2 separate regions of the Homo sapiens genome follow, and region 1 is linked to region 2. The links come from fine-mapping of genetic effects on gene expression. A gene starts in region 2. The other region holds a variant in brackets. All regions are shown on one strand. Distances are between the middles of the regions.

Region 1 (5,319 bases), 34 kb before region 2:
CTTCTTCCAAATTAATGAACAGTGTATCATGATGAAATGGTGCTGTGTCTATCTAGTACACTTCTTACCTTTGAGAATATACACTTCCTGGAGACCATATAGCTGTAACGTATTTGTTTTGGTCTGTATTTGCCCTGAAATAACATTTTTCCATATTTTCATTTTTATCCTTTCTGAATCACGTTTTAAGTCTTTTTTTCTTTTATTAAAGAAAGCATGCACATATAGTTTTTAGTAGTACTCACATCTTTGGTTTTTGTTTGTTTCTTTAACTGAGGAACTTAGTCCGTTTAAATTAAATGTAATTACTGATGTACTTGGGTATAAATCCACAATTATATAGTTTCTATTTGTCTTTCCTGTTTATGTTCCCTTTTCTCTCCTTTCTTACTTTCTTATAGACTTATTGATTTTATTATTTTATTAACTTGGATGTTATGCATTTCTTTTATATTTTAATGATTACCCTAAAACTTCCCAATTCATTTGCTTTTTTAAAAAAATAAACTTAACTTACTTTCTTTTGTAGAGCAGTTTTGGGTTCACAGCGAAATTGAAGAGAAAGAACAGACAGTTGACATATACCCAGCAACTCCCACTCCTGAACAGCTTCCCTCACCATCAACATCCCCCATTCTCGTGGAGTATTCGTTGATGGTAACAAATACTCCATAAACCTACATTAACACATCATTATCACCCCAAGCCCACAGTTTACATTAGGGTTTGCTGTTGGTTCATTTGCCTTTCATTTCTTTCTGCATTTCTGAACTTTTATCTAGGATTATTTTCTGTCTCTCCAGGTCCTTGCCCACTCACTAATCTCTACAAAGTAATTTTATCTAACATTTAAGTACTTTTATACTTTTAGGATGCTTTTGTTTGCTTGTTTGCAAAAAATTTAAAGATTAAAAGATTATTTTTAATGGGCAGGTTGATCTCAATTTCCTAGTCCACCATTACCAGAAACAAGAAGAGGCTGCACTTACTCTTCAGTGATTTCTATCTTCACCTGCAAACCTTCCGTTGTTATACTTCCATCTGTCCTGTGCCCCAATTTTAGCTCCAGACCATGTCTTTTCAAGTTTGGTGTGTTTGTGAAGTACTGCCAAATTCCCATTTATTTCTCTGATAATATGTCATTCTTCTGAAAATAGTTACAGTTCTGATATTAGTGCAAGTAAGTGTATGTTTTTCATTCTGAATGTATCTACACTATAACAGAATGCTTCACTGTTTTATTTTCCTTTGACTTTTTGGATTGGAATCTTATGGAGGGTGGCGAGTAGCGAATATTTGAACTAAAGTCATTGTCTTACCTAGAATTCTGCTTCTGATGTGTCTACCTCTATCTGCATGTGTGTGTGTGCTCACACTTGTGAACTTTTCTTGCATTTATACAAATATTAATCATGCTATTGGTTTGCTGATTTCTGTAATAAGAGAACGGTAACTTTTGGCATTGCTTTTCAATCTTTTCCTTCCTGGTCTCTTGTGGTTTCAGATTATTGTAAGAGAAATGAACAGTTAAGAGCAAAAGAGTGAAGTTATATTCATTATTTAAATTTGTCAGTACAAGAAAAAACACCATGGAGGCCCAGGAATATTTGTTCAAACCATTTCCTCATTCTCAAGGTCACATAACTTCCTGTCTAATTCCAGTGTAGACCAACATCAGTGGAACACTCGATTATTTGTCTTCTTAGTCACACCTCAGCTTCTTATTCACTAATGACAGGAATGTATTTTCAAAGTTTTAGTTTCTTTTTCTCTGTTTTATTCCAAGACTGCTTTTCAAAAATGTTTCATTTCTTCTTTGCCATCTTCCTTACTGTATATTCTCTTCTAATCTCCCAGCTCATTTCCCAGTTGTTACAAACATTATCTAAGTATTCTCAATATTATGATTTTTAACTTATTTCATGTTAAATGTTTCCTATAGATTTCATGTGTATTTATTCTACCTAATATTAATATAATTATCCTGATCAAAATACTTTTTCATTTTACTGGCTATGGGAATTTATGTTCATTGGAGAAAAGGGTAGCTGGAATATGTGCTAAGTAAAGAAACAAGGACTAGTGTGTTGTGCAGATGTGTGTTTCTGCAGTCCTCAGCGGGCCCCTGTTCTCTGCTGCAGACTTCTCCATTGTGGTTGGGGTGCTGTTCCCAATGGCGGTCATTTTTGTGGTGGTTGCTATGGTAATCCGGCACCAGAGCTCCAGAGAAAAGCAGAAGAAAGATCAGAGGTGATCCTTTATCTTATCTTGCTGTAGGGACTCTTTGACCCCTATTTTACTTTACTTTAAATTCAATGTATAACCTATCCTTTCAAATTGAATTGGTTTACTTCTAATATTCAGAAATACATGCAGATGGTCTTTTTGGACGAGAAACTGGGTTTCCCTTTAACTGAGAAATCCTTCACATCTAGAAATGTTTTTTGTTTTTCCTTCTGTTAGTCACCGTAGTTATAATAATAAGAGTGATATTAACTCTCATTATGACAGATTTTTTGAATTTGTTGTAAGAATATAATATCTAACATTATTTGATCAATATACGATGAGCACTGTGCTAAGCACCGCCCCACCCACTTTTTTTTGAGACAAGAGTCTCCCTCTGTGGCCCAGGCTGGAGTGCGATGCTGCGATCTCGGCTCACTGCAACCTCCACACCTCCCAGTTTCAAGTACTTCTCCTACCTCAGCCCCGAGTATCTGGGATTACATGCACATACCACCACACCGGGTTATTTTTGTATTTTTAGTAGAGATGGGGTTTCACCATGTTGGCCAACCTGGTCTCAAACTCCTGACCTCAAATGATCCACCCACTTTGGCTTCCCTAAGTGCCGGGATTACAGGTGTGAGTCTCCACACCCGGCCGTGTGCTAAGCCCTTTTATATCTATTATCTTATTTACACTTCACAAGAACTTCATAAAGTGGTCATGAGTTTCATTTTACAGATGAGAAATGTTTTATGCTAACCCTTACACAATTTTGCAAGGTTAGGAACTTCACATTTTGATGGATATAGAAACAAGCTCAGAGAGATTATTAGCAAACATGCTTTCAGTCTTGCAGAGTAAGTGGTGGAGGCTGGGTTTGTCTCACGAACGTGATTCTGGCACAACGGTGTTTTTTTTTTTTTTTTTTTTTTTTTTAGCACTTTTAAAGAAAGACTTATTTACTCATGATGAGTTTTTTAATATTGAGTAAGACATTAATAAAACAACATAATTTAGATAAAATTTGGATTCAACACTATCATTTTTAGAAGTCAGGGGTTTTTGGAGAAAAAAGAAAACTAGTAGTGATTATGAATTACAAGGCAATGAAAGAGGCTGACGGGGAAGTAAAAACTGA[C/T]CCAGGGAGCAGATAAAAACCCAGGCAATAGGCAAGAAAGACACAATGGGAAAAAGAAGTTGGGAATCTTCTACGGAGTTTCCCTGTCATGCTGAAGGAGCTGCTAAGTCAATTGATATCATGTGTTTCTCTCTTACAGGCCACTATCTACCACTGGCACCAGGCCACACAAACAGAAGAGGAAACCCCAGATGGTAAAGGCTGTTCAACCCCAAGAGGTGAACTATATAGTCTGGGCTGTGATTACCATGGCCCCACTTTGCGTTTCTCTCACACTCTTATCCTGACTACCTATCTATCATTTCTACCCAGCAGCGTTTTGCAGTAACACATTCAGAAATGTCTCCTTTGCCTTTTGTTAAAGGCAAAAGAGTCCCTAAAATGCCGAGGCTACTTTGCCGGGGTTCATGAAATGCAAACAGAATAAAGAGAACAAAGAATGCACATACCGGATGTCTGTCTGTCTCTCTCTTTGTCTCTGCTTCATTCTCTCTCCCTCTCTCACACACACACACTCCCTCTAGCTTATTTCTTTGCAAATTGACAAAATAGATACAAAAATATGTATGTCTGTATGATAATACATGTAATATTTATAACCCAAATGTCCTACTCATGTCCTGTAAATTTAAAGATTTTAGCTGAAGTTGGTTAATAACATTGGTAATCATTTATAACATTGGTAATCATTTTTTGATGAAAACTTTTCATTACAGCTCTGGGAAATACTTCTATGGAATACGCCAGCAGGACCACTGTGATTTTCTATCTGGTCTCTTGGTGTCAGCTTAGTTCCAAGCTTCCATGCCTTGAAAAGTGCTTACTTAAAAATTACTTAAAAACTGTGCTTATGAAACTAATGGTTCATTTTGAAATATTCGTTCTTCTTTTCAGATGAGTCAGATGAAGCCCCATGTGTATGATCTGCCAGTAGAAGGCAATGAGCCCCCAGCCTCTTTTGTGAGTTAGCAACTTCTCTTAAATACCACCCTAGTTCAATCTCCAGGAAATATCGGTGAAAGTCATAGCCCACAACACTTCATTATTTCTTCAGGACAATATTGAAATCTATGTGAATATTAATATAAAATACAAATTCTTCTGCAAAATATTTTGAAAATATAAAAAAATGAACATGTATGTCACTCCATGCCAACTTGTGACAAGAAGAGGACTAATCTGCTTAATAGAGTACCACTGTTTTCATCAGCTCAGGCTGCTGTAACTAAATTAACATAGATTGAGTGGCTTAAACAACAGATATTTACTTCTCACATTCTGGAGACTGGGAAGTCCAAGTTCAAGGAGCTGGCAGATCCAGTGTCTGGTGAAGCGGCCTTCTGGCTTGTAGACAGCTGCCTTTTTATTGTATCCTCACATAGCAGAGGGAGAGCATCTCTCTTGTGCTTCTTCTTATAATGGCATTAATCCTATCATGAGAGCTGCACCCTCACGACCTCATTATTTCCAAAAGGCCCCACCTCCAAATACCATCATTCTGGGGATTAGGGTTTCAACATATGAAATTGTGGGGTGACACAAACATACAGTTTATAGCAATCATCTTTATCAGATACCTATTGACATTGGACTTAGGTCTCAACTGTGTATGTACAACTAAATGAAAGCAATCAAACTCATATTTTACAATATTCTCATGGGTGGGGTCATGGCTTCTCCATTTCTGAAAATGATTTAAGTCTTTTCTTTATGCACGCCTATTTTCAGGACCCTATCTTTGAATGTAAATGTTTTATCCTTTTACTAGCTAATTACAAAGCCAGATTTTCCACCACCGCCAATTCCTGCACCTATATCATCTTCTTTGCTTGTAAGTATCAGATAGTCATTGGTGAATTTTTAATCTCTCACCTGCTCATTGCAAATACTGTCTCCACATCCATCGGTTATCAGGATGTGTACTTTTGAGGTTAACTTGAAATATCACA
Region 2 (5,394 bases):
TGATTTCAATAAATATTCAACTGCCCTAGCAATACTAGTTGTATAATTAATAAGCAAATTAGTTCCCGCTAAATAGCCAGAAAGCAAAATTGTCCACAGCAATAATGGTCACCAAAAGATAGCCAAATCTCATCCAGTAGAGAAACTGCTGAATCAAGTGGTAGTTAGACTTTTAGCTCTTTATGGAATCTCCACACTGTTTTCCATAGTGGCTGTATTAGTTTCCATTCCAGCCAGCAGTGTAGAAGTGTTCCCTTTCACTGCATCCACACCAACATCATCTATGATTTTTTTATTTTTTATAATGGCCATTCTTATGTGAGTAAGGTGGTATTTCATTGTGTATTGCATGTTTATAGCAGCAAAATTTACAATTGCAAAAACGTGGAACCAGCCCAAATGCCCATCATTCAAAGAGTAGATAAAGAAACTGGTGTATATATGTATATACCACACACACATATATGATGTATACCATACATACATGCATATATACCATATATATGCACCACATATACACCATGTATTTGATGGAATACTACTCATTCATGAAAAGGAATGAATTAATGTCATTTGCAACAACCTGGATGGGATTGGAGACTATTATTCTAAGTGAGGTAACTCAGGAACAGAAAACTAAACACTGTATGTTCTCACTTATAAGTGGGAGCTAAGCTATGAGGATGTGAAGACATAAGAATGATACAATGGACTTTGGGGACTCAGGGGGAAAGGATGGGAAGCCAGTGAGGAATAAAAGACTACTAATTGGGTTCAGTGTATACTGCTCAGGTGACGGGTACACCAAAATCTCACAAATCACCACTAAAGAACTTACTCATGTAACCAAATACCACCTGTTCCCCAAAAACCTATAGAAATAATAAAAAAGAATATGTTTAATGAAGAATTAAAAAAAAAATAACTGATGCTAAAAGGACCTGCGAGCAAAGAAGGTGGTACACATGAATAATTTCAAACATCTGTAGAAAACACACACAAAAATAATGAGTAACATGGGGGTCAAAATCATGATAAACTAAAATACTTGACAACAACATGTAATGTGCTAAAGGGTAGGGCACTGATAAGAGTTCACCATTCCAGGATTCTTTTATTATTTGATGATAGAGACATAATTAGCATTATACTTTGTTAAAATATTAATGGCGGGTCATAAAGGATATAAGAAGGATGCCTATCTCTGGACCAGAAAAAGAAATGCAAAATTATAGAGAAAATGTTACTATTTTAAAGGAAGGTAGAACAGCAACAAAGTGAAGAATAGACATAGAGAGGGGATTTTTAAAGTTCCAATTAGATGTTAGGAAACTCCCAGATGTATCAGTGAAAAGTTAAGTTCAGCAGTTAGAAGGTATGGGTTTTTAGATTGGGAAAACTATACATAATGATTTAATTTGGCCCTAACTTTCTGAAAAGCACTGAGTCAATGTTTATCAATAATCTCAAGTTGATTTACCCTTTTTAGCTAAATAATAGCACTTCTAGACATTTATCCTGAAGTCACCAGAAATTCAATTAAAGAAATATACACAACCAAACATTACATGGACACTCAACACACACATATGTAGAAAATATGATATTCTAAAATCACTAAAATTATGTCTTAATATTCAATGTCATGAGAATGCTTATGTCATAGTGCCATGGAAAAAAAAATAAGTTTCTTAAACCCTTTGCCCAATAAGGTTAGCTTTCCTTTTCTGCATAAGAAGATGAAAATAAATTGTAAAAACGTTAACAGAAGTTATTTCTTGATGTCGGATCATTGGCAGTCAACTTTTTTCTCATAATAAACTTGTGATATTATAATCATGAAAATCTACCATATTTGTCAGAGAAACATTGTTATTGTATAAGGTAGAACTCAGAAAGTACACCTCGAACATACTTCATATGTTGTATAGTTCGGTTAAGGCCAGCACTGTCAAGGTTATTTAAATTTCTTGTACATTTCTTATACATGCACATTTCTTTACAATTTTACATGCATGTGCATATGTGTGTGTGCAAATGCATATGAATTTTATAAGAATCTTGAGGCAGTTAAAATTATCAGCATCCCCTGTTGACTCATTAGGAGACTGAATGTTAGAGAGATTTTCAGTATCTTGGTTTGTAGGACTTTACCTGGTGCTTTTTAGATTCTGTGTTCACTGTGACAGTATCTCAAAATATGTACAGAATACTGATATATGTCCTAAATATGTGGATTTATTTCTATAAGGATACTGAACAACAATCGTAATGGTCCAGTTTGGTGAGTATGTAGATATGCACGCGACCACCTCAGTCTCAGTTCACACATTCCCACTGCTTATAGGAGCACCAGGGGCAAACAGTGTCCAGATGTGAGTCCTCAATGAGCTATAACCACAGCCATAAATATCTCTCAAAGATGAGGAACATTCTCATGATGTTGACACTGCAATTTTTTGACAATTTCCCAACACTCTTAAGAAACATTCCCCAATCTCACACGAAAAGTGGGGGTTTTAATTTTCTTGTTCAACTTCTAAAGAGAAATTGGAGAAGATAAAACTGGACACTGGGGAGACCACAACTTCATGCTGCGTGGGATCTCCCAGCTACCTGCAGTGGCCACCATGTCTTGGGTCCTGCTGCCTGTACTTTGGCTCATTGTTCAAACTCAAGGTACGTACCATCACACCAGCATTTTACATAAAAGTCAAATTATTTGATGAATGTTTAAAGTGCCTTTTGAAAAAAAATGGCATATGTTTTTATGGTCGAAAGACCATTACCATTTGCATTTTGGTAGATTTTCTACCTCTCTGCAAAAGCGAACTATATATACATAAGTATGTGTATCTTTTTGAGTGAGGATATTTTAAACCACTATATGAAACATGGATTCTAAAATTTGTCCTATTTCCTCCAATTGTTATATATTTTAACAAATTTTATGTTTGCACAATATTTTCCAAAATAGAGGAAAAAAAAGCTACATATTGTTCCATTCATTATGTCTTTTCTCTACTAAATAAAATTTTATTAACATCTTCATGAATCATGGCTGTTTAAAAAATCTGCACTTTGGGATATTTCCTTGAGAAAAATTCTTAAAAGCAGAATGACAGGGTCAAAATGACTAGTTCTGGAAAAGGAACCCTTTTTGTCTTTGAGATTGATTATTGATATTATTGATAGATGAACCATTTTGATGACACACTATACACACCCTACAAATAATTTTCAAGTCACTGGTTATTTTACTAGTGATCACATAATAAGCATGTTAAAAGCCAAGCTGTAAACCTACGTATTTCCATGTATAAACACATTTGTGCTAAACCCTATATTGAAACAGGTAAAGTACATAGCTGAGGAGTTATCCAAGCTCCCCACAAAATTCCCACTTGCCTAAAAGTTGCCGTGCAAAAGCTGCACACATACGGCTGGCTCTAGCCTTCATATTCTTTTACATTTCCTCATTGTGCATCACCAATACTATACCCAAAAGAAGGATAAAATGGAGTAATTATTATACCAATAATTATGCGATATATACACACAGCTTACTGAAGTCTTCAAATTCAATTATTTGATCCATATAAACATATAAAGACAGGCTTATAGTCAACACTTTGTAATTTGCATAATGATTTAGTAAGGATGTCTCTGGAACTGTATTTCTTATTTAATAACTCTACTAGATCTATTTTCTTTTCTAAAACACACCATCCCAATGACAACACAGAACTAACTTCCTGGCCAAAAATCAAATCCATGTATTTAAGACAACTTCCGAATCATAGCTCTGCTAGGATGAAAGACAGAGAAGAGTTTAAAATAGAATGAGGGCTAAATCATATATAACTGCATTATTAAACAAAAATCAGATGTAATACATTATAATTGCATTATTAAACAAAAGAAAACATTAATTGACCAACTGAACAACTGTGCCTGTGCTGTCGGATGAGAATTAATTGTACCTAAAGAGAAGTCAAACAACATGTAATGAAATAGAACTTGATTGAAATAAAAAAAAAAATCTACATATCTTTTTTCCCCCCATTCCTCAGAGGTCTCAAAATACTCATAGATACATTTCTAGAAAAGTGAAACTTGTTTCTATTAATATTGTTCTCACAATATTCTGCTGAAAAAGTCACTGAAATACTTCTGAATTTGATGATAGTCTATGATGCCCATAGTGCCCAAGTAGCCCTACATTTTTAAACATTCCTCCCTATTACTTTAGATAACCCAATAGTTAACAATGAAAGCTATTATTTTGGAAGATATTCATTAGGTTGCAGTTAACTATATAATTTTATACCTGGTAATGTTCTTATGTTTACCCATACACAATCTTATCTGGTAAATTATTCTTCTTTCAATCTCACAACTTTCTGGAACTTCCATAAAATCTTACCATCATTTTTAACAGTGCATGAAACAATCATTTTCAAACAAACTTGTACTCACTGAACTGCTAAGCAAAATGAACTTCAGCATTACATTTGTATTGCTTTATGTGTATAAAACCACGCCAGAAGTTTCTGGGGGAAATGGGAGGGATTGCAAGAAGGTTTTACTTGGCGTTCTGCCATATTCACCAATCTACTGCTCCTTGTCCCTATATGATCAGCCTTACCTTCTGCTCCTCTATCTGACCTATCTGTGCTGGCTTAACACCTCCATTTGTCTTCTAGATCTTATCCCTTCTCATACAAGGACATTGACCTAACATTTTCCCTCCTTCCTACTGTATCTATTCCATATTCTCTATGGAATCATTCCCATCAGCATATAAAAATTATCCCAACTTAAAATGAATATCCTTTTTCTTTCTCTTCTGCCAATTAACATCCTAAATTTTCTCTCTCCTGCCGGGTCTGTCCCGCAGACCCTGGCTGACCGATGAAGTGAGTACTCAGACACAGGTATGCAGTGTAAGAGCAGCTAGCTAGAGCTGCCTGGCCCTAGTGGCCAGAGAGCAGCTGTTATGTTTTGCCAGGCCAATTGATTCTGGTTGGCTTGTTGTTCCCACAACTCATCATATTCTGTTCACCAGAGGGGGTATTTACTGGTCTCTAAAGTTGTTTTAGCTAGCACTGACCAGTCCCATGGGGTCATATGGAAGTTGTCTGCTATGGCCTCAGTTAATCCTTTCATAAATGGGCTAGTGGCTCTGTTTTCTCTAATGCTTTTTCTTATTTCTTTAGAAGTGTTGAAAGCAATGAGTTCACGTACCTGATTGTCTTGTTGATCTTGCATCACTGGGCAGGTCAAGAGCTCCCTTCTAATTCCACTTGACTAAGACAGGGTCCCATAACAGTAGTGTATCCCTTGTATTTTTTCCAATATATTGGGAGAGAGGGCTCAGGGAAAATATTTGTC

Direction of the effects. Alleles are on the strand shown, and positions count from the first base shown. SD is a standard deviation of normalised expression in the study named.
As copies of T replace C in region 1, the expression in subcutaneous fat of the gene that starts at base 2,372 in region 2 goes down (small effect, 0.27 SD a copy in GTEx).

Evidence for each region. PIP is the estimated chance that this variant, and not a neighbour inherited with it, causes the effect. A credible set is the group of variants that fine-mapping cannot tell apart.
Region 1: its variant is the best candidate, but not a certain one, in a credible set for the expression of ADAMDEC1 in subcutaneous fat (GTEx, PIP 0.88).

What each region holds. Positions count from the first base shown.
Region 1 is chr8:24,347,723-24,353,041 of GRCh38, forward strand. It overlaps ADAM28 (ADAM metallopeptidase domain 28), which reads left to right. Exons shown (of 23, transcript NM_014265.6): 19 at 2,142-2,250; 20 at 3,510-3,588; 21 at 4,265-4,330. All of the region lies in intron 3 of ADAM7-AS1 (ADAM7, ADAMDEC1 and ADAM28 antisense RNA 1), which reads right to left. Among named protein-coding and RNA genes, the nearest start is that of ADAMDEC1, 34 kb to the right of the region's middle. The variant C/T (reference allele first, on the strand shown) is at 3,371.
Region 2 is chr8:24,381,914-24,387,307 of GRCh38, forward strand. ADAMDEC1 (ADAM like decysin 1) reads left to right here and starts at 2,372. Exons shown (of 14, transcript NM_014479.3): 1 at 2,372-2,679. The coding sequence starts at 2,592. It overlaps ADAM7-AS1 (ADAM7, ADAMDEC1 and ADAM28 antisense RNA 1), which reads right to left. Exons shown (of 6, transcript NR_125808.1): 3 at 5,248-5,394. RefSeq lists an enhancer at 5,240-5,394.